3 linked regions of the Homo sapiens genome follow. The protein of the gene in region 2 interacts with the protein of the main gene of each other region in a pairwise test. Each region holds a gene or a part of one and is shown on either strand. Other genes may lie near its edges.

What was found.
Region 1: the proteins of SLC48A1 (region 2) and LDAF1 interact in binary tests that used the Homo sapiens proteins (3 or more experiments, as listed by UniProt).
Region 3: the proteins of SLC48A1 (region 2) and LAMP1 interact in binary tests that used the Homo sapiens proteins (3 or more experiments, as listed by UniProt).

What each region holds. Positions count from the first base shown.
Region 1 is NC_000016.10:21,154,327-21,161,778, forward strand, and holds the start of LDAF1 (lipid droplet assembly factor 1), read left to right. Parts: upstream 1-4,347; 5' UTR 4,348-4,420; intron 4,421-4,998; coding exon of another isoform or gene 4,999-5,115; exon of another isoform or gene 5,116-5,133; intron 5,134-6,651; exon of another isoform or gene 6,652-6,758; 5' UTR 6,759-6,856; coding exon 6,857-6,952; intron 6,953-7,452. Other genes in the region: DNAH3 (dynein axonemal heavy chain 3), read right to left, coding at 4,999-5,115. UniProt on the Homo sapiens protein: Plays an important role in the formation of lipid droplets (LD) which are storage organelles at the center of lipid and energy homeostasis. In association with BSCL2/seipin, defines the sites of LD formation in the endoplasmic reticulum.
Region 2 is NC_000012.12:47,768,994-47,776,326, reverse strand, and holds the start of SLC48A1 (heme transporter HRG1), read right to left. Parts: upstream 3,090-7,333; 5' UTR 3,023-3,089; coding exon 2,887-3,022; intron 1-2,886. UniProt on the Homo sapiens protein: Heme transporter that regulates intracellular heme availability through the endosomal or lysosomal compartment. In macrophages of the reticuloendothelial system, is the heme transporter for heme-iron recycling.
Region 3 is NC_000013.11:113,293,167-113,300,296, forward strand, and holds the start of LAMP1 (lysosome-associated membrane glycoprotein 1 precursor), read left to right. Parts: upstream 1-4,072; 5' UTR 4,073-4,268; coding exon 4,269-4,329; intron 4,330-4,472; exon of another isoform or gene 4,473-4,571; intron 4,572-7,130. UniProt on the Homo sapiens protein: Lysosomal membrane glycoprotein which plays an important role in lysosome biogenesis, lysosomal pH regulation, autophagy and cholesterol homeostasis.

The sequences.
Region 1 (7,452 bases), on a different chromosome or scaffold from region 2:
CACAGGAGGTGGAGGTTGCAGTAAGCTGAGATCACACCATTGCACTCCAGCCTGTGTGACACAGCGAGACTCTGTCTCAAAAAAAAAAAAATTAGAATGGTCCTGATGTGGAGCTAATGGACCCTATGGCCTGTGTGTGAGTAGGAGGTATGCTACCATCTGAAATTTAGTGTGTTTTAAGTCTACTAGTGTTTAAAACTATCAAAACAATACTAATGGCTTTCGCTTATTGAGCATATACTATGCCCTGGGACTGCTGCTAGGCACTTAGTAGACATCATGTCTTTGAATCTTCTCAACAACCTAGAATATAAATATCAGTATTTTCACAAGTTTTATGATTGAGGAAACTGATACATTAAACTAACCTGCCCATAGTCACACAGCTAGGTCATCAGGAAAGCTTGAACTTGGTTATGAAATCTGTTCCATGGCTTCAACCGAAAACCTACATGTAATCTGAGGAAAGGTGGAAAATAAAGTATCTGCCAAAGAGAGTGAAAGTGACTTCCCCCAGGCCACCTCACCTGTACCAGAATTGTTTGTTGTCTGACAACTTTGTGTTGGATAATTCTTAAGAAAGGATATAGGCTTCAAGTTTCTCAATCTTCTTTTTCTTTCTTTCTTTTTTTTTTTTTTTTGAGATGGAATCTTGCTCTGTTGCCCAGGCTGGAGTGCAGTGGTATGATCTCGGCTCACTGTAACCTCCACCTCCTGGGTTCAAGTGATTCTCTTGCCTCAGCCTCCCCAGTAACTGGGATTACAGGCGTGTGCTAACACACCTGGCTTATTTTTGTATTTTTAGTAGAGATGGGGTTTTGCCATGTTGGCCAGCCTGGTCTCGAACCCCTGACCTCAAGTGATCTGCCCACCTCCGCCTCCCAAAGTGCTGGGATTCAGGCATGAGCCACCATGCCCGGCCTTGTTTCTCAATTGGGCTGCCAGACAAAACAGAAGGTGCCCAGTTAAATTAGAGTTTCAGTCAAACAATTTTTCAGGTAAAAGAATGTTTTAGGGCCGGGAGCAGTGGCTCATGCCTGTAATCCCAACACTTTGGAAGGCCGAGGCAGGCGGATCACAAAGTCAGGAGTTTGAGACCAGCCTGACCAACATGGTGAAACCCTGTCTCTACTAAAAATACAAAAATTAGCTGGGCGTGGCGGCACATGCCTGTAATCCCAGCTACTCCGGAGGCTTTGGCAGGAGAATCATTTGAACCCAGGAGGTGGAGGTTGCAGTAAGCCGAGATAGCGCCACTGCACTCCAGCCTGGGAGACAGAGCAAGACTCCGTCTCAAAAAAAAAAAAAAAAAAAAAAAGTTTTAGTATAAGCATGTCCCATTCAATACATGGGCTGTACTTGTACTTGTACTAAAAAGTTACCCATTATTTACCTGAAATTCAGATTTAATTGAGTGTCGTGTGTTTTTATTTGCCAAATCTGCCAACATGGGGAGCAGAGGTCAGCAAGGTTCCAAGTTGCCCCTGCCTCTTGTTATCAAGAGTTTAGGGTCTTAATCTGTTGCTAAAAAAATTTCACACATTTCTTATTCAGAGGCTGGTATTCCTGGCAGCTCATTCCTGAGGCCTAAAATAGTTGTTTAAGCAGAGCAACAGTTTCAATCCTTGGAGGCTACTATAGCAAAGTACCAAAGTCTGGGTGGCTTATAAACAAGAGACATTTATTTCTCACTGCTCTGAAGGCTGGAAGTTCACAATCAGGGTGCCAGGGTGGTCTGGTTCCAGTGAAGGCCCCCTTCCATGTTGCAGGCTGCCAACTTCTCATTGTATCCTCACATGGTGGAAAGAGGGTAAGAGAGCTCTCTGGGAGTTATTCTTATTTTATTTTATTTTATTTTATTTTATTTTATTTTATTTATTTTATTTTATTTTATTTTATTATTTTATTTTATTTTATTTTAATGAGCCAGGGTCTCACTTTGTTGCCCAGGCTAGAGTGCAGTGGTGCAATCTCAGCTCACTGCAGCCTCCACTGCCTGGGCTCAAGAGATCCTCCTGCCTCAGCCTCCCATGTAGCTGGGACTACAGGCATGTGCCACTATGCCCGGCTAACTTTTGTATTTTTAGTAGAGAAGAGGTTTCGCCATGTTGCCCAGGCTGGTCTCGAACTCCTAGACTCAAGCAATCCACCCACCTTGGCCTCCCAAAGTGGTGGGATTATAGGTGTGAGCCACTGGGATCTCTTTTATAAGGGCACTAATCCCATTTAGGAGGGCTTCACCTTCATGACCTAATCACCTCCCAAAAACCCCATGCCTAATCCCATCACATTGGGGGTTAGGATTTTAGAGGAACAGACATTCAGTCCATTGCAGCAAGTAATTGGGAAAGCATAGGAGAGGCTGCGCGTGGATTTTTTTAACCCAACCACTGCATGTTCCTTGAGGGCCAAGTCCTGATGCTATGGAGAGATGCTAGGATCCCAGCCCTGGAGGAACACATGATGTGATGGAGGAAGCATCTATCACACAAAGACAAGCAAAACTCTGCTGGCCCAGCCAAAAATGCCAGAGGTGGAAGGAATTTGAAGATTCACAGAGACGCCCCTAGATGGCACTCTTAAACAAAAATCCCAGTGGAAACCCTAACTCAGCTTTCCAAAGCAACTTCCATTTAGGGAATGATGATTGGAAGGCTGTAATCTAAGGAAACACACACACACACACACACACACACACAATCTTTTCCTGGGTGGGGAACCCAGCATTTTGCAGCTGAACAAAGTGCATGACGCCAGACAAGATTGGCTAAAACTTAAGAATTTAGGGATTCTTGTCTGTCCTATCCCCACCATTAGCTCTTCTTTCTGCTATTGTGGAATTACAGCAGGATTCTGTGGTTTATCATATCATTGTCGTGATCATCATCATAAATCATCATCCCAAGCAAATATTTTTGAGCCCCTACTCTGTGCCTCAATAGGTGCTAAGTTCTCGACAGCCACAGCCACACTATTGCACCAGTCCTCACTACAACCCTGTGATTGCTTCTTTTTTTTTTTTTTTTTTTTTGAGACAGGGTCTCACTCTGTTGCCCAGGCTGGAGTGCAGTGTCTTCACTGCAACTTCTACTTCCCAGGTTCAAGCGATACTTCTGCCTCAGCCTCCCGAGTAGCTGGGATTACAGGTGCGCACCACCATGCCTGGCTAGTTTTTATATTTTTAGTAGAGATGGGGTTTCACCATGTTGGCCAGGCTGGTCTGGAACTCCTGGCCTCAAGTGATCTGCCCACCTCAGCCTCCCAAAGTGCTGGGATTATAGGTGTGAGCCACCGCACCCTGCCAGCTTTTTGTTATCTAAAGACTTATTTTCCAGGTTGCTATGGCCACAGGCAAAGAGGAGAGGTCGGTCAACACAGGTCCCTGTCTGGAAAGTGGCTGAGAACTGTGCAACAGCAGACCAATGGTTGGGCTTATCCCTCTCTCTAATTTATGGTTGAAGCCATGGTTCAGAGAGGTTACTTAGTCACACAGTAAGTTGCCATCATGCTCTATAGCAGTGGTTCTCACCTCGGGACGATGGGGCCTTCCAGGGGACATTTGGCAATATTTTGAGACACAACTGGAGGTGGGGGGGGGCGGTTCTTGTAACTGGCATCTAATGGGTAGAGGCTAGGATATTGCTAAACATTCTACAATCCACAGCTCAGAAACAGAATTATTCCGCCCCAAATGTCAATAGCATACTATTCAGAAACCTTACTCTATAGGGCAGATTTGGGGCCAGGGGAAACAGGGGCTCCTGCTCCGACTTGGATCCATGCAAACCGAGGAATTTGGATTGATTTATCTTGTCTCTCTCAGCCTGGACTTTTTCATGTGTAAAATGGACATCCAATCCATCTGAAAGGATCTCACTGGCTTATGACATTCGCATTTGAGCAGTCATGGTTAAAAACTTCCAGCCAGGGTGATACTTCATCACGTGTGTGTCTTGAGCGCCAGAGACGTTCCAGAGCAGCTGGTTTTAGGCATACAGGAGGGGAAACCCTGACACCCTTGGAAAACTCATTCTCGGCTGCCAGTCTGCCTGTCTTGAAGGTGGTCTGAGCTTTCTCACTCCAAGCCAGTCGTGTGGGAAGGGACACTCTCTGAGCCTCAGTTTCCTCAGCTGTCAACCTCTCAGGGCTTGTTCTAGTGGCTCCGAAAGCCAGTGGGAGCGAGCGCGCTTTGCAAAGCCTTGGGCGCCGGGCCTTGGCGCGCCTTTGCCGGATCCTTCCGGCCACGGGCGGGGCGAGCCCAGAGGAGAAGAGCCGAGGGGCGGTGCCCGGGCCAGGGGGCGGAGGCAGGCGGCTCTGGCTCCCTCTCGGGACGCTCTTTCCTTCTTCCTCTTGTTCCTCCTCCTGCCTCTCTTCGCTTCGCCTGCAAACGCGGTGGGGGCTGCTCGGCGGTCAGGAGCAGGTGAGAGCTCGGAGCTTGGGGGTGGGGGTCCGGGTGCCCCGGGTGGCTAGACCCCTCTCGCCGGGCGGGGACAGAGGAGGAGCGCGGGGGCGACGGCGTGAGCGCGCTATCGGGGTCCCACGCCCGTAGCTTTCTGCCCCGGGGTTAGTGTAAGGGGCGTCTCCTGCTTATGAGTCGCCGGGACGGGGCTGGGAGCGCACGAGGAGACACGATTCCTCCCCACCCCTAAATGCACACTCACCCCGCCACCCCCCAACACACACACACATACACACACACACTACCACTAGATTAGGTAAAATGGTAGCTAGCACCACCACACCCCGAGACTGTGCCCCTTTCTGGGGAACCTGGGGAAGACGTCGAGGCAAACCTCCCTAGGATTATTGAAAACGGGCGCCTTCCTCACCACCCAGCCCCTCTTCTCCACCGAGGTCCCCTTCCCCATCGCTGCAGAGAGATCTGCAAGTATCAAAGGGGGCTTCTTTACCCCCAAATTAATAACTAAGTACTCGACTCCCCTCTGAGTTCCCATTATTCAGTCTCTGTGCCTTCTGGGACGCGGACCCCCTCTCCACCTGCATTTCACTCCCTTCCTCCTCTCCTTGGGTCTCCCTGGCTTTTGAACGCTGAAAGGCTGGGCCCGGATGGGGAGGGGCGGCCAGTGTGAGCTCGAGGCGCCCTGTAGCTCCCATCCCCCAACCAGAGATGTGACCCCTCCTCCCAGCTTGAACTTTCGAGGTAGCCGTTTTCCCCTGGAGGTTCGGGGGTGGGAGGGCCAGGAGATTTATTTGGAGCCTTGGAAGGGGAAAGGGTTAGCTGGTGTTGGCCTGGCCCAGTCCCCCAGGCGTGAAGAAGGCGGGGCACTCCTTGGCCGCGCCGGGTTCTCGCTTTCCCTTCTCGGGAGACAGCTCCGTGCCTGGGGAGGCCCCTCCGAGGAGTGAGTGACCAGGGGGTCTGGGAATTGGTGGCCAGGTAGACGCATTTGAAGGCTGTGGCCGATGGCATTCGCCCCACGCACTCTCTCATCGGACTCCCCAAACCGGTCTGGGTGGCACTTGAGGCTCCCAGGCCAAAGGAGACCTGTAAGGGGAACTCCGCTTGTTTCTGCTTGCTGCAGAGATGAGATTATGGGAACTGAGTGCTGGGAACATCCCAAGTTCAAGACCTACGCCAGAGGCAGCTTCAAAGAGAGAATGTGGGGTGGTGGGATTAGTCCCCTCCTCAACTTTCCCCTCCAAAGGGTTTCTTGTTTTACAAAAGGGAAGTAGCAGAGGATGTCTAGCTGGGATGATTAAAATGTGCTTTAATTTGCATACTAGACCCTGTACAGCTTAGTAGTAGATAAAATTACCCCCTATATGATAAATAAATGTGAGGATCTCTCAATTAATTTTGGCCACGTGGACACAATCTTTTAAGCATTTGTACTGTAGGTCAGGTCAGTTTAAAGGGAGAAATGGAAAAGATATCTCTGTGTCCAGCCAGTTCTGGGAAATATAAAATAAGAATGATTTTTTTTTTATATTTGAAAACTCAACAAGGGTTAAAAAATATATCTAATTTAACCAATTGCCTTTATTAAAAATAAGTAAAAATTGTATGAGATTGGGACACCCCTCAAAATTCCAGGCAGTTTAGTTAGAGTATAATTACTGTGGTGAGGTCTGCCCCCGAGGTGCAGTTCTCCTTAGCAGGGATAGACTTACCCACAAGTAAGTAGATGATGATGTATGGAATGATGGAATTGGGAGCCAACCTGTACAGTAATAAAGAAGAGAAACAGGTCAAGGCTACTGTTGTACAAGGAAAGCTTTCTAGGGAGAATAAAAGGCAATGAGATTTGAAATAGTGTGTTCAGCTTTCTTGCTTTCTGTATATTTTCAGCATTTTGTCAAGCTAAAAAATAAACATAAGCTGTCAGAGATAATACTATTAACATTTTATCATCTTTTTTTAAAAGTATCATACACATCTTTTCACATCACTAAACAGTCACACTATCATTTTAATGACTGAATTTATCATTATTTAACCAATTTTCTCCTAATGGAAATACAGTTAGCTACTTTCCAATGTTTTGCTAGTCATTATATGTTATAAACAGGGATGCAATGCACAGCCTTTTAGTACATTTTGAGATACCTGTTGGATTATTTCCATCATGTTCCTGGAATATAAATTCCTGGATTGAAGTGTGTGCAATCTGAAATTGTTGTGAATATTGCCAGGTTACCCTCCGTCTGCATGCCCACCATCAAGGTATGAGGATGGTAGAAGCTCTCGTCGAACCAGATGGATGAAGACCACTAACGGCTTTTGTTTCCTCTGGTAACAGCAAGAGACAGAGCGACATGAGAGATTGGACCGCGGGCTGCACTGGAGAATTTACTGGTAGGATAATTCATCCCTAAAGAGATTGAAGTGAGCTTCAGAATGGCAAAAGAGGAGCCCCAGAGTATCTCAAGGGACTTGCAGGAACTGCAGAAGAAGCTGTCTCTGCTGATAGACTCCTTCCAGAATAACTCAAAGGTCAGTTTCCAATCACTATGTATAATGGAAAATCCCAATATAACACTAGCATAAACAAGATAGAAAGTTATTTCTTTCTCCAGTAGAAGGAATTTGGAGGTAAGTCAAGAATCTTTCTGGCTTACCGCCCTGCCATGTCTATGCTGTGACCTTCAAACTCCTTGTCTGAGATGACTGCAAGAGCATCAGCCATTGTATCCATCTTTCAGGCAACAGGATTTGAGGAGGGGGGAAGAGAGAAGTGCAAGCCACCTACAATTTAAGGAGACTTCTGGGAGTCGCACACAATACTTCCAATTACATCCCTTAAGCCAACATTGAGTCATTTGCCACTAATGGCAAATGCAATTCTTTAGCTGGATAAAGAAGTCTGTGCAACAGATATCATCCTTTTTTTGGTTTTGTTTGGTTTTGTTGTGAATTTTGCCCTATCTGTTACCCTGAAAATGAGAGACAAAAGCCTACTTCAAGATTTGAGTTCATTGTTCCACTAGGAATCC
Region 2 (7,333 bases):
ACACCGTTGCTCCATCCTACCTGTTTCAAGGAGCAGAGCCCCTGCTTAGCCATGTGAGCTTATTGGCTCACAGCCGATAAGCTAAGGGTAAGGAAGGCATAGGGTAGGGCGGTGAAAGCATCCCCAGTGGCTGGGCTGGAGGTGAGGAGACAGGAGACACCCGGGGGATCCCACAGGGTAAATGCAGACAAGAAGGACACTGGGCCTAGGTCAGGCCCCTCTATTCCTTCCTAGGAGGAAGACAGTCCTGGAGCCCCAGGGCTCTTGCTCACAGCTCACCTGGGAAAAACATAGAGCTGTTTAGACTTCAGGAGCAACTTTTCTTTTTCTCTTTCCTTGGTCTACTAAACCCAGAGCAAGAGTTTGTGTTTTCCCCCAGGACTCCCACAGCAAAGCCAGACCAGGTAGATCCAACCCACACCTGCCCGCCTCCCCAGGAAAGCCAGTCTTGCTTCTGCCACTGCCTTTCTCCAAAGCCACTTCTTCGAAGGTACCCATCAGGATGGGAGAGGGTATCCCCACCCGTGAACACTCTGCCCACCAGACCCAGGGGCTCCATGACTCTGCTCCAGAAACTGGCACATCCAATCAGTCCTTGCCTGGTCCAACACAGGAGAAGGAGCATGCTGGGGCTACCCTTGGGTGACTCAGCAGATTCTGAGCTATAAAACGCTGAGTCAGAAGTAGGGTGCTCACACGTTAGTTAATCTGCTGACACTTTACCCCCAAAAGAGGAAGAAGGTTGACTGGCCACAGACCCTCTGAGAACTCACTCATGGTGGGGAAGGTCGGAGGCCCAGGCTTGGCAACCCCTCTCCCTGCCACCATCCACCACCACCACTACCAAGCAGTTTTGGCTCTTCCACAGCCACTGTCAAAGATCAGACCATCAGGGAGATACCAGGACCCTACTCCAGCTGGCTGCTGCCCTAGCGAGCTGCTGCCCTAGCGAGCTGCTGCCCTAGCGCCTCTCTCTGAAGGCAGCTCCACAGCTGGCCTGCCTCATAGGCCAAGGGAAGCCTGTGGGGAGGGAGAGAGGGCAGAGTTGGGTCGGAAGAAAACCCCAGGCAACTCCCTAGAGTATAAGAAAGAAGGCCTTTTCCACAGCCCTCTAGGAGGCAGCTGGAGACTCAGGGAGTGGGCAGCACTGCAAGATTTCAGATCTGGAGGGAAGTCAGATGTCTTTTGGGGACATCTCCTCCCACTCCTAATAGATGAGGAAACTGTGGCCCAGGATAGGGTCAAACGGCCAGGTAGGGTTCACCTCCACTTGTACCAGGCCAGACTCAACACAACCAGCTGAGATCCCAGGCTGGCCCTCCCTGCTCATCCTTCTCTTGCCTTCGGTCTTCGCAATGCAATCATAGGGCTCTGACGCCGCCTTCCAGAGGGGAAAGCAACAGGGCCAATAGGAAACAAAAAAGTGGCAGGGAGAAGTGAACCTTGACAAACATGGAGGGTGGCGGGGTGCAGTGGGGAAAGGAACTAGGGCTCTGTAGATAACGCGCAGAGATGGGCCAGTTGTCCTCAGGATCCCACAGGTGGTGAGGCAGCTGGGCAGGCAGAGAACACCCTAGCCAGGGTGCCCATCCCCCCTTCTTGGTGACCCAGTGCTTTGTTGGCATTGTGTAGGGTGGGGCCCTGTATGCCCCTCTTCTAAGGCATTAACCCCACCTCATGCTGCGACTCTACCCAGGGATGGCACTCAGCACTCCCTGTGGCAGTGAGTAAATTAGTTATTTTTAGTTATTCCATTTAGGGTTCTTTTGGCCGAGGATTTTAGTAATGGAATATAATCATCATATGTAAAAGTATTATACGTATTTTCTTCCCAAAGTCCTTTCCCACACATATTATTTCATGTAGCTGTGTAATCCCGGGTAAGCAATTTATTTAACTTCAGGCCTCAGTTTCCTTATCTGTAAAATGGACATAATCGTAAGGCCTACTTCATGAGACTAATGTAAGGATTAAATGAAATAAGGGAAGCAGGTTGCTTAACATAGTGCCTGACACATAGAAAGCATTTTTTAAAATGTTAGAAAGTAGAGATAATATTTTTCATCTTCATACCAATTCTATGGCGCAGAGAGGTTAAACTGCGAGCCCAAATGTGCACAACAAGGAGCACTGGTCAGCCCAGAGCCCCCATCAGCGCACCGATGCTTCCCCTTCCCTCCCAGAAGCACAGAAAGGGCGGCTGGCCTGCAGGATTTGGCAGAGCTTGGCTGAGGAGCCACAGCAGACGGGTAGCAAAAAGGCACCAACATGGGTGGAAAGAGAATGTCCAGTTTCTATGAGATCCCTAACGCCGTCCTCCCTGTGGGTCTCAGCAGAGGGCTCTGCGGGGGAGCCCTCTGGAAGGAGGGAGATGGGCTTCCCCAGCCACCCCTAGCCCTCTTCCTTTCCCACTTCTTCCCTCTCTGCCCTCACCCAGCACCCAGGGAAGGGGCGCCTGGGGGGCAGGGGATCCCTCAGAACAACCGTGTGTGTGTGCGTGTGTGTGTGTGTGTGTGTTTGGGGATAGGAGGCGACCAGCGCCGCGGGCGCGCGGAGGGGACACTGTCGTGGGGCAACTGGGCGGAGGGCGACAGGCAGTGTGCCGTGACAGATAACCCGGGCGGCGCGGCAGGTCTGTGCAGCCGGCAGTGGCGGGCCGTCGGCACCCCCAGGTGGCGCCCGGGCGGGCATCGGGTCTCAGAGGCACCCAGGAATGCCCAGGAGCCCGGGCCCGCGTGGGGCCTGCCGCCGCCAACCGCTGTTTTCGAGTAAACACTCCACCCGCTCCGCGGGGAAGCGCCGCTCGCGGGGAGCGTCCTGGAGCAGCTGACGGCGCCCGCCCCGCAGCCGCGCACCCGCCCCGCGCCGCCCAGCGTCCCGGGGTACCTGCGAGCCCTCCCATGGCCGCGGTCCCCGGCTGTCGGTAGACCACCGTCCAGACGAGGAAGATGGAGAAGCCGGCCACGGAGCTGATGCCGGAGTAGGCGGCGCGGAGGCCGAGCTGCAGCCTGGACGGGGCCATGGGGCTGCGGCGCCGGGCGGGCCGAGGGCGAGCGCGGCCGAGAGTCACAGGTGCAGGGCCCGAAGCCGCCAGCCGGAGCCGCGGGAGCCGCCAGAGCAGCCGGCGCCCCGCGCTCCGCCCCCGGCCCGCCCCCAGCGCCGCCCGCACAGCGCCCTCCCCGGCCGGAGGCCGCCCGCGCCCGGAACCGCAGACGCCACCGCCGCTTTGCGAAGCTGCCGTGTCGTTTGGGGGAATGCTGCTAAAAAGGCGGATTCCTGGGCCCATCCCCAGACCCGCCGTGTCCGGATTGTTGGACCTTGGAAGGGACCGGAAATATGCCTTTATACGAGCGAACCGCGAGGATTAAAAATCTTTACCTCTGAGTACGATGCGTATTTTCGTTTAAAATTAAAATTAAAATTTCTTGTTAAAAATTAATAGGTAAAACTTAAGAAATATTAGAGTACGCTGTGAATAGAATTCCTTCCGCCCGTCCTTCTATCAACCAGGTTCCCTCCCACCATATCGCAGAGGATTTCTCCACACACTAAAGTCTGGGAACCCCTGCGACCATCACCTTCTGACTGCAAACATTCTATACATTCTATCCTCACGCACAGCTCCCCACAAATCCCTACTTTTTTTTTTTTAAACAGAGTCTCACTCTGTTGCCCGGGCAGGAGTACAGTGGCGCCATCATAGCTCCGCATCCTCCAACACCTGGATTCAAGCAATGCTCTCACCTCAGCCTTCCAAGCAGCCAGGACTACAGGTGTGTGCCACCACGCCTGGCTAGTATTTTTTGTTATTTATTTTTTGTAGAGATAGGGTCTCGCTATATTGCCCAGGCTGGTCCCCAACTCCTGGCCTCAAGCTGTCTTCCCACCTCGGCCTCCCAAAGCGCTGGAATTACAGGCTTGAGCCACTGCAACGGACCTCACCTTTCCTTTTATCAGCACAAGCCTTATCCTCCCAAACCCCTCACCCTGACCCTCGGGATCATACCATTGTAAGGAAGAGACAGATCTGTAGCAGGAGGGCACTGAGCTCCCACGTGAGCCCAGCTTCCGGCCGGGAGCTGGAGGGAAAATCCCAGCACAATAACAAGGGCTCTGCCACAGCACTAAGGATCCACATGGGGAGGCCCATCATATACCTGCACAAAACATAACCAATACCCCTTGCATTAGTTTTTTTTGTGTGTGTGCTGCCGTAACAAATTACCACAAATTTACTGATTTAAAATAACACAAACTTATTATTATTTTACAGTTCTGTAGGTCAGGAATCCAAATAATGGTCTCACTGGGCTAAAATCAAGGGGACATCAGGGTTGCCTTGTTTCTGGAGGCTCTAGGGGAAAATCAGTTTCCTTGACTTTTTTTTTTTTTTTGAGACGGAGTCTTGCTCTGTCACCCAGGCTAGAGTGCAGTGGCGTGATCTCAGCTCACTGCAATCTCTGCCTCCTGGGTTCAGGTGATTCTCCTGCATCAGCCTCCCGAGAAGTTGGGATTACACGCTTCCACCACCACACCCAGCTAATTTTTGTATTTTTAGTAAAGATGGGGTTTCACCATGTTGGCCAGGCTGGTCTCGAACTCCTGACCTCAGGTGATCCGCCCACCTCAGCCTCCCAAAGTGCTGGGATTACAGGTGTGAGCCCACCGTGCCCGGCCGCCTTTTCCAGCTTCTAGAGTGAGGCTACCCACATGCCTTAACTCCCTCTTCCTCCTTTTCCCTTCTAAGGACCCCTGTGATTGAGGGGATAGTCCAGGATAATCTCCCCATCGCAAGATCCTTAATTTTATCACATCAGCAAAATAAATCCCTTTGCCGTGGAAGGTGACATATTCATAGGTTCTGGGATGAGGACGTGGACATCTTTGGGGGCCATTATTATCCCACCCACCACACCCCCTCTGGAACATAAACTTCATGAGCAGGGACAGTGCCAGTTTTGTTCACATCAACATCTAAAAGCATGTCTGGCATATAATGACCCCTTAATAAATGTTTGTTGAATAGGTGAGTGTGAGTGAATGAAGGTAAGAATAAAATAAAAACAAAAGCAATTATACACAAGGAATCTAGACAGGGTGTGCTTAACTGCCAAACAAGGGATGTAAACCAGTGTTAAGCACATTTGCCTCACTCTAGAATAATCTGGGAGCTTCTTTAAAAATAAAAAAATAAACCCAGCCCCACCCCTGCCTATTAAATTTTGAATCTTGGAGTGTGTATTTTAATGAGAAGTGATGTCAAGGCTGTGAGCTCAGCAGCAGCCCTCCTTTAGGAGCTGCCGGTGGAGAGTGAGTGCTGGTCCTGTGGAGGAGGGAGCAAGCCCCGTGGTCCGGAGTGCATTTCCATGGATGGCTTCAGAGCTGGCCAGGATGGACAGTACTCCAGGCAGTGGGAACCGCACGTGTGATGGCGCAGAGGGAAGAAATAAAGCGGCCGCTTTGGGAAACTGTAAGTCGTTTGTGGCTGGAATGTCAAGTTTGAAGGTAGAGTAGCGGGTTTGGAGATTAGAAAGGTTCTGAACATAAAGGGCCTTGCATGCTCTGTTAAGAAGGCTGTCCCCCTCCCCTTGGGGCTGGGGGAGAAAACTCACAATTCTGTGTTTTAGAACTATGGCCAGAGTAATAGAGTGAAGGCGAACTGCCTGTGAAACACTAGAAGCAGAGAGATGAGTTGGACAAATTTCACCCCACAGTGCTTTAATTACCAGGTCTTTAAAATGGAGACTGCAGTAACACCTACTTCAAAGTGTTGTGATGAGGAGTGCCTGGAAGAGTGCCTAGCACATGGTAGATACTCAATAAATGTCAGGAAGTAGAATTAGTAGCAGCAGAAGGCTGCCATGGCAAGAGAGGATGAGGGGCTTCAGAGCTGGTCCAGGCAGAAGCAGAGAGAATGGAAGAGACGAAACTGCTTCAAGAGCTATTTCAGCTATCTGAACCTAAAGGTCAGGGGAGAATTCATTAGCTGAGCAGACAGAAGGAGGAGAGCAAAAATATTATGAGTGGACATATTAGGAGTATGGGAGAGCAGTGAGCAAGCTTGCTGTGCTGGAAAGTGAGATTGCGCAAGAAAAGAAAGAGAAATAATTATGTAACAGTAGTACTAGACCAGGTTGTACAAGGCTAAGGCCAGGCTTAAACATTTTTTAAATTGTGGAAACAATGAAGAGCTATTGCAGAGCATTAGACTCAGGTGGGGTCAGAGGCCTAGCTTCACCATTTGCTGTGACCCTGGGCAAGTGCCCCTAACTCACAGATGTCCAATCCAATTGACTTTCTGCCTGGAAGAAAATATTCCATATCTGCACCCTCCATAATGGTGGCCACTAATCACAGGTGGCTATTGAATACTTGATATGTGACTAGTGTGACTGAAGAACTGAATTTTTAATTGTATTTAATTTAAATTAATTTAAATTTAATGTATTTAAGTTTAGTGTATTTAATTTAAATTAATTTAAATTTAATTTAATTAATTTAAGTAGCTGCACATGACTAGTGGCTACTGTGTTAGCACAGCTAGACCCAGGACTCCTGTCCCTCCATCTGTACACAGGGAATGATGATGAAACATCACAGGCTTGTTACAAAGATCGAGATATATTGAGATAATACACTCAAAGTGCTCAACACAGTAATTCAACAAATTATTGCTGCTGCTGTTGAAATTGTTATTGTTTTTATTGAACAGGGATTGCATGACATACGCCAAGTCTTAGGAAGATTAGTTAGACTATAATATCCAGTTAGATTTGATGGGGGAAAATTGTAGAGGATAAAGCATTCACAAGGTTATTTCAGTGGTAAGGTGTGAGAGAATTAAGATCTTATCCAGTGAAAGACCTTGAGAATGGGAAAGAATGGAATGATTGTTGAGCCATAAAGCACATGGGTGTGCACCACTCATACACATCTTCTCATATCAGCTTCCTTCCAAGGTATTCTCAGAGAGTACACTCCCAACCCAGCCCAGGACAGACACTACTACGACCCCTACAAGATGCACAGCCATTCTCCCTGCCTGCGCCAGAAACTACTAGTGCTCCACAACACACACCAACATTTGTGTGTCTCTTTCTGGGCACAGTACCTCCCAAATTTGAACTACACTTCCCAGCTTCCTTGCAGTCAAACGGATGCCATGGGATCAGGTTCTGAACAATGGAATGAAGGCAGAAGCAATGTGCGCCATTTCTAGGCTGGGCTCATTTAAAAATCTTCCATACAACCTGCATTCCCTCTTCCCATTCTGTGACAATTTTAGAGGCCATATGTACCACATAATGGAAAGAACCTAGGCTTGAATGAATGG
Region 3 (7,130 bases), on a different chromosome or scaffold from region 2:
ACAGGATCCTCCCACCTCAGCCTCCCCAAGTGCTGGGATTACAGGTGTGAGCCACTGCGCCTGGCCCAAACCAGGGCTTCTTGATGAAATCATGGATTCCAACTGTGACCTAGAAATGCCCAAGGTGAGTTTAGCCGTAATGTTGGTAACTGGGCTGGACATAGTGGCTCCCATCTATAATCCCAGCATTTTGGGAGGCCGAGGCGGGATGCTCACTTGAGCCCAGGAGTTCACAATAAGCCTGAGCAACATAGCAAACCCTGTCTTTTATACAAAAGTAAAAATAAATTAGCCAGGTGTGACAGTGCGTGCCCGTAGTTGGAGGTGCTTGGGAGGCTGAGGTGGAAGGCTCAGTTGCACCCAGAAGGATGAGGCTGCAGTGTTGGGCAACCCAGCCTGGGCAACACAGTGAGACCCTACCTCTAAAAAACATTTTTTAAGTAGTAACTGAAAGGCGGGTAATAGTGGTAGGCAAGGCGGGGATCATTATATTATTCTACTTTTATTTAAAATATCCTTTAGAATTGTTACAAAAAGACTACTTATCTCAATTTTTACCTATCAACCACTACTTTATTTCAAATACTGAGCCCATGTATCAGCTTCCAAACCTGAACTCTTGTGGCAGAAACTGCAGAAGAAAATTTCAGGAGCCTGTTTCTTGTGCCAAGCGGGAAGCTAGGCCCTGTGGCCTGAGTCATGCAGCACGTTTGCAACTTCAGCTTCTTGGACTGGTTAGGCTGACAGGTGACCACACAGCCTCTTGTTCTTGTTTTGTAAATGACTAGGAGAGACCAGAGACCAGACTTCCCCGCTTCCCATTACTGATCTTTGCTGTGGACCAGCCGCCTCCTTCATTGTCCTGTGCATCTGTCCTAACTCAGACTAGATGGCACGACGACCCCGTGACGTAGTCCGTGTGGAACGCCAAACATACCTTTCCCAATAGGAAAAGACCACCTTGGCTAATCGGAGCACAGTAACTGTGCATTCACCCTCAGAGAGAAAGATGCTGGAATTGTGTTAAGTTTCCCTAAACTTCATCTATAGAAATGATCCCAAACTGCTACATTTCAGAACACCGACTTCTGTTCTTTGGAATCTGTGCTTCCTGGGCGGCCTGTCCTCAAACTTTGCACTTGAATAATCTCTCTTTAAAGTAGATTCTGACTCTTGATTATTTTAGGTTAACAATGTCTTCAGGGAAATATATTCCACACTGAATTCCTAACTTAAAAAACAAAGAAAAGCTATAAAATGTGAAAAAAAAAAAAAAAAAGGTCAGGCGCGGTGGCTCATGCCTGTATTCCCAGCACTTTGGGAAGCCAAGGAGGGTGGATCACTTGAGGTCAGGAGTTCAACAGCCTGGACAACATAGTGAAACCCTGTCTCTACTAAAAACACAAAAATTAGCTTGGCATGGTGGTGCATGCCTGTGATCCCAGCCAATTTTTTAAAAATTGGCCAGGTGTGATGGTGTGCACCGGTAGTCCCATCTACTTAGGACGCTGAGGTGGGAAGGCCGCTTGAGGCTGCAGTGAGCCTTGATTCCAACACTGCACTCCAGCCTGGGAGACAGAGAGAAATCCTGTCACAAAACAAAACAAAACAAAAAAGAAAGAAGGGGGAAGAAAAGAAAAAGGAAAGAATCAGAAAAAGAAGAAAAAAAGAAAAGAAAAGAAGGGAGGGAGGGAGTAGGGCATCACTTTGTCTAAATAATTGTAACCACAAAAAAGTGGAGACAGGTGAAGTAAATAGATGAGTATGGCCAGAGCATGGGGCAGCAGCAGGAAAGGAAAGAACAGATATGTATGGTTTGGACTAGATGAGTGTTTCTGAGCCTTTTTTTGATAAATGCCCTCCCTCCGTTCTGATACACACTTTAGGACACAGTGTGGGAATCATGTCATCTCTGAACCTCCTTCAACCAAGATTTTGTCCAGCATTAGATTCTATTTTTGCATTGTTAAGCAGGTTTTTGTTTTGCACCATAAAACTGTAATATTCAGTATGCTTGTTCAAACACCTCTCCTACTTTCTAAACCCTACTTCTAGCCTCCTTAAGAAGCAGTGGATCAGAGGAGTCCCCGAATTTAAACCTCCAGAGTTTCGCGTAATTGTCTCATTCCACTGCAGGGGAGAAAATATAATTTCTCTTCTTTCTCTCTTTATTAGTTGAGACATTCTCCTGAAAACAAAATTCAGAGCAACAGGAGAAACAAGCAGAAGTTTATTAGCACTTGCTGTACCCATCGTGTGAGAGGCCTCAGTTCAGAAGTATTTCTCTCTCAAGGCATGTTGTGAACAGCACAAGGTCAGACATAACCAGGTCCACACACGTTTATGTCTTTCCACAGGGTGGGAATATATTGATGCTATTTCAATTATAAAAGCCACGAGCTACGAGGAGTTGCCTCGAGACAATTCCCTTCAGTACTACTTGTTAACTTGGTAGAGCCATGGGCAAAGGCTCAAGCCAGTCCACGTGTCAGTCAATACTGCAAACTATACATCATAGTGTACTTAAAATACAAACGCTATGGTTTAAACATTCCCCATCAAACAAAGTAACATTGGACATCAAGAGAAAGAGGATAGGAAAAGGGGTTAATGGATCAATCCAAGGAAAGCAATGACGGGAACAAGGAGTGTATTCCAGCCTGATCCAGACAGAAGTCATTGTCTTCCAAGGAAGTCCTTGATGTGAGCAGATCCTTAGGCAGCAGATGCAGGGTGCTAAGCACAAGTGACAGCAAGGTGGGGTCTATCAAAATGCCAGTGTTGAATTGGTCAAATCCCGCCCTTTTTAAGGTCACAGTCCTCTGGTGAGGACTGATAGTGAGTGCCTGGTCCTGTCTTTATCTGGCTGAGTGCTGTCTCTATTAACTAGGTGCACATCCAGTCCCCGTTGCTATGATGCCTTTTGAAATGTAAGATTAAATCTTTTTCTAAGATGTAGGTACTTATGCGACGGGTGCTTTATACAAAGCAGTAGCGTAGGGGCCTTAATTAAATAGTATTTTAACAAAAGGCCATAAATCCTATATGATGACAAGCCAAAAAACAGAGCATCTTCAGACTTCTAAAATGCAGGAGCCAGGCGCCGTGGCTCAGGGCTGTAATCTCAGCACTTTGGGAGGCCGAGGCGGGTGGATTGCTTGAGGTCAGGAGTTCGAGACCAGCCTGGCCAACTGGTGAAACCCCGTCTCTACTCAACATACAAAATCAGCCGGGCGTGGTGGCGCACGCCTGTAATCCCAGCTACTTGGGAGGCTGAGGCAAGAGAATCGCTTGAACCCGGGAGGCGGAGGTTACAGCGAGCCGAGATCGCGCCACTGCACTCCAGCCTGGGCGACAGAGCGAGACTCCGTCTCAAAAAAAAAAACAAAGTGCTCGACAGGAACTTTCTGTAAGCCAAAGAGTATCGCCATCGCACCTTCACCTTCACCTTGGGCAGCCTGGTGCCGTCTTCCCTCAGCCCGCGATTAACGAGCGGAAGGCCGCACTGACCCATTTCAGATCCCTTATTTCCTTCCTAAAACCACTCAAGAGTTTGGGCACAGTGGCCTCCCTGTGTGAGGAACTTGCTTCCCACTCACCAAAAGACAAACCCTTCGCCCATCCCTGGCCGCGCACCCGGCCGGTCACCCGCGCTGCCACCCACACCACCCTCCTGTCCATAAAGAGCCCGCGTTTGGGACGCCTCGCAGGCTGAAGGGAGGCCTGGGCGTCCGCGATCCGTCTGCCCTTTCTCCCCTCGCGGGCTTCCTCTTTCCTCACTTTCTCCCGCCACTACTCTTCCTCTTCCTTTTCCGCGAACCCAGCCCACTTCCCGTTTCAGGACCTCGGCTCGGCCCCAGTCCCCCGGACCAGGCCGGGTCACGTGGGTCCAGGGTCACGTGCCGCTGCGGGTCACGTGCCGCTGCGGGTCACGTGTCGGCCTGCATCACGCGTGAGGGGGCGCGCGGTGCTGGAAGCTGCCGCACCTGCGGGGAGCCGAGCCGCCGGCGCTCGACGCGCGCGCTCTCGCGAGACCCGCGGGATCACGTGACGCCCGGGCGCGGCGCAGCTCACGTGACAAGCGCTGCCGGCCGCGGTGTCTTCTTCGTGCCGGCGTCGCAGTGGCCGGGCCTCTTGCGTCTGGTAACGCCGCTGTCTCTAACGCCAGCCCTTGGCGCCCGCGCCCCGCCACCGCAGCGCCCGGCAGTCCGCGGCCCAACCGCCGCCCGCGCCCCCGCTCCCCGCACCGTACCCGGCCGCCTCGCGCCATGGCGGCCCCCGGCAGCGCCCGGCGACCCCTGCTGCTGCTACTGCTGTTGCTGCTGCTCGGTGAGGGGGTCGAGGCGGGGCCTGGGAGCGGCGGGACCGGGCGGAGCCGAGGTCCCTGGGTCTTGAGGGCGGGGGACTGCCGGGTCGTTGTCCCGCGGGTCGCCCCGCACCCACTGCTCCTGGTCCCGGCCGGCTCTGCCCGCGGGCGGGTGTTTCTCTCGGGGTCGTAGGGTCGGAGCGGAGCTCAATGGCAGGTGCTTGGGGGACCAGGAGGTCTCATCCCAGGACCTGGCTCCTCTAAGGTCTGTCTCACTGAACTCAGTTTTTCTGTGGTGGTGAGTGCGAAAGGGAACTTCCGATGGCTTGCTCGGCGGTCTGGTGCTTTCAGGTCGTTAAGTTTCCTGGCAAGTTGAGGCGGTGAGATCTAGACGAGGCTGCGCCGCCGAAGGTGGCAGGGACGTCTGTGGTCTCAGCTCCCGGGTGGGTGACCTAGATCAAGCTCTTCCCAACATGGATTTCACCCAGGACAGGGAGAAGCCGGTGCGAGCATTCCCCACCTTTGTACTTGAACCTTTCTCCTCTTTCAGCGGTGTGGAGGAGATGCGAGTGTATTTATGTTATTGTGAATTCACATGTATGTTAAAATAATTTTTAAAGTTATCTTTGGGATTTCACAAGATTCCGTAGTAGACAAGATGAGGGAAAGCTGGCCTCAGACTCACGGTGGCAATGTTCATGTCTAGTAAGTAGTTTAAAGAGCGCCGTTCCTGTAGGCCGAAATGCGGGACCAGGGAACACGTGGGGAAGCACCCTTCTCTTCTGTCAGTTTATAGAGCTCAGATGGGCAGTAGGTGCTCAATATTGTATTGACTAGTGAATTTCGTTCTCATTTATTGTCTTAATAAGAGGATGTGTGCTGTCTCTTTAAGACAGTCCGGATTGCCCCCCGCCAACACTATTCTTTCACCTCCTCCCCCCGCCGCCCTCCCCCGTAATATGAGAAGATTATCTTAAATGCCAGGATCTGAAAGGTGATGTAGAATCAAGCTGGGGGAGTGTGTGTGAGTTAAGTAGATATAGAAATACACTCCTGTACACATCTGCCTTGACTTCTTTAAATCCCTCAGTCCCATCCAGCTGTAAAACTCTGTTACTGTGAGTGAATGGATCTTGGCTTCCCTTTTTTGTTTTGCCTGTTGTGTAAAATGAATTCTTTGAACTGCCTGAATAGCCACAGAGATGAACTTATTCCAATAGTAAGCCTGAAGCCTTGCTCAGCTCCTGCGACAGGGTCAGGTGTAGTTAATGAAAGGAGTTGCAGAAACAAGTTTTGTCATGTCACAGCAACTGCATTGTTCTTTGTTACAGATGCTCACAAGCCTCATAACTTTGATGTTTTGTTTCATGTTTTAAAAACTCACTTCAGGCCGGGAGCAGTGGCTCACGCCTTTAATCCCAACACTTTGGGTGGCCGAGGCAGATGGATCATGGCGTCAGGAGTTCGAGACCAGCCTGGCCAATATGGCGAAACCCGGTCTCTACAAAAATACAAAAATTAGCTGGGCATGGTGGCGCACGCCTGTAATCCCAGCTACTTGGTAGGCTGAGGCAGAAGAATTGCTTGAACCCGGGAAGCAGAGGTTGCAGTGAGCTGAGATCAAGCCACTGCACTCCAGCCTGGGCAACTGAGGGAGACTCCGTCTCAAAACAAAAAAAAAATTAACTTTAAAAATGAAGAGAAAAAATCCATAACTCCCTAATATTGTGATTGGAATATTGCTTGTGTAATCAGTCTTCTAAGATCTGTTCCATTATATCTTTTATGTTTACAATCTTAACTTTTTTTTTTTGAGGCGGAGTTGCTCTGTGCCCAGGCTGGAGTGCAGTGGCACAACCTCGGCTCACTACAACTTCTGCCTCCTGGGTTCGAGCAATTCTTCTGCCTCAGCTTCCTGAGTAGCTGGGATTACAGGCACCCGCCACTATGCTAGGCTAATTTATGTATTTTTGGTAGAGACTAGGTTTAACTATGTTGGTTAGACTGGTCTCGATCTCCCGACCTCGTGATCCGCCTCCCTCTGCCTCCCAAAGTGCTGGGAGTACGGGTTTGAGCCACCGTACTTGGCCCAAGAATTTTTTTTTTTTTTTTTTGAGGCAGAGTCTCACTCTGTCACCCAGGCTGGAGTGCAGTGGCGTGATCTCCGTTCACTGCAGCCTCCGCCTCTTGTGTTCAAGCAGTTCTCCTGCCTCAGCCTCCCTAGTAGCTGGGACTACAGGTGCGCGCCACCATGCCTGGCTAATTTTTGTAGTTTTAGTAGAGATGGGGTTTCACCATGCTGGCCAGGCTGGTCTCGAACTGACCTCGTGATCCACCTGCCTCAGACTCCCAAAGTGCTGGGATTACAGCCATGAGCCACCGTGCCTAGCCAAAATCCAACTTTTAAAAAAGGCCTTTTAACAACTTGCATTTAAAGATATTTAAAATGTTTATTTTAATGTGCGATTTCACCAAAAATCCTTTTTTCTTAAAAAAAGAAACTGCTCAATTACAAATTTCCACTATATTAATAATTAGGCATTGTTTAAAGCTACTGTGTTTGAATACTTAGAAAGCTCAAACATGAACTGAAACTTGTCCTGATAGATAGGATTAGCTGTGATTGCGTAATGTGACCCTTTAAACCATTGATGTCAGCAGGATGACCGCCTTACCCTTTCCACTTGAACAACTGTCACTTAGGAGGTTTGAACAATTTTATACTCGGCTGGGTGCAGTGGTTCACGCCTGTAATCTCAGCACTTTGGGAGGCCCAGGTGGGCGGATCAGCTGAAGTCAGGGGTTTGAGACCAGCCTGGCCAAT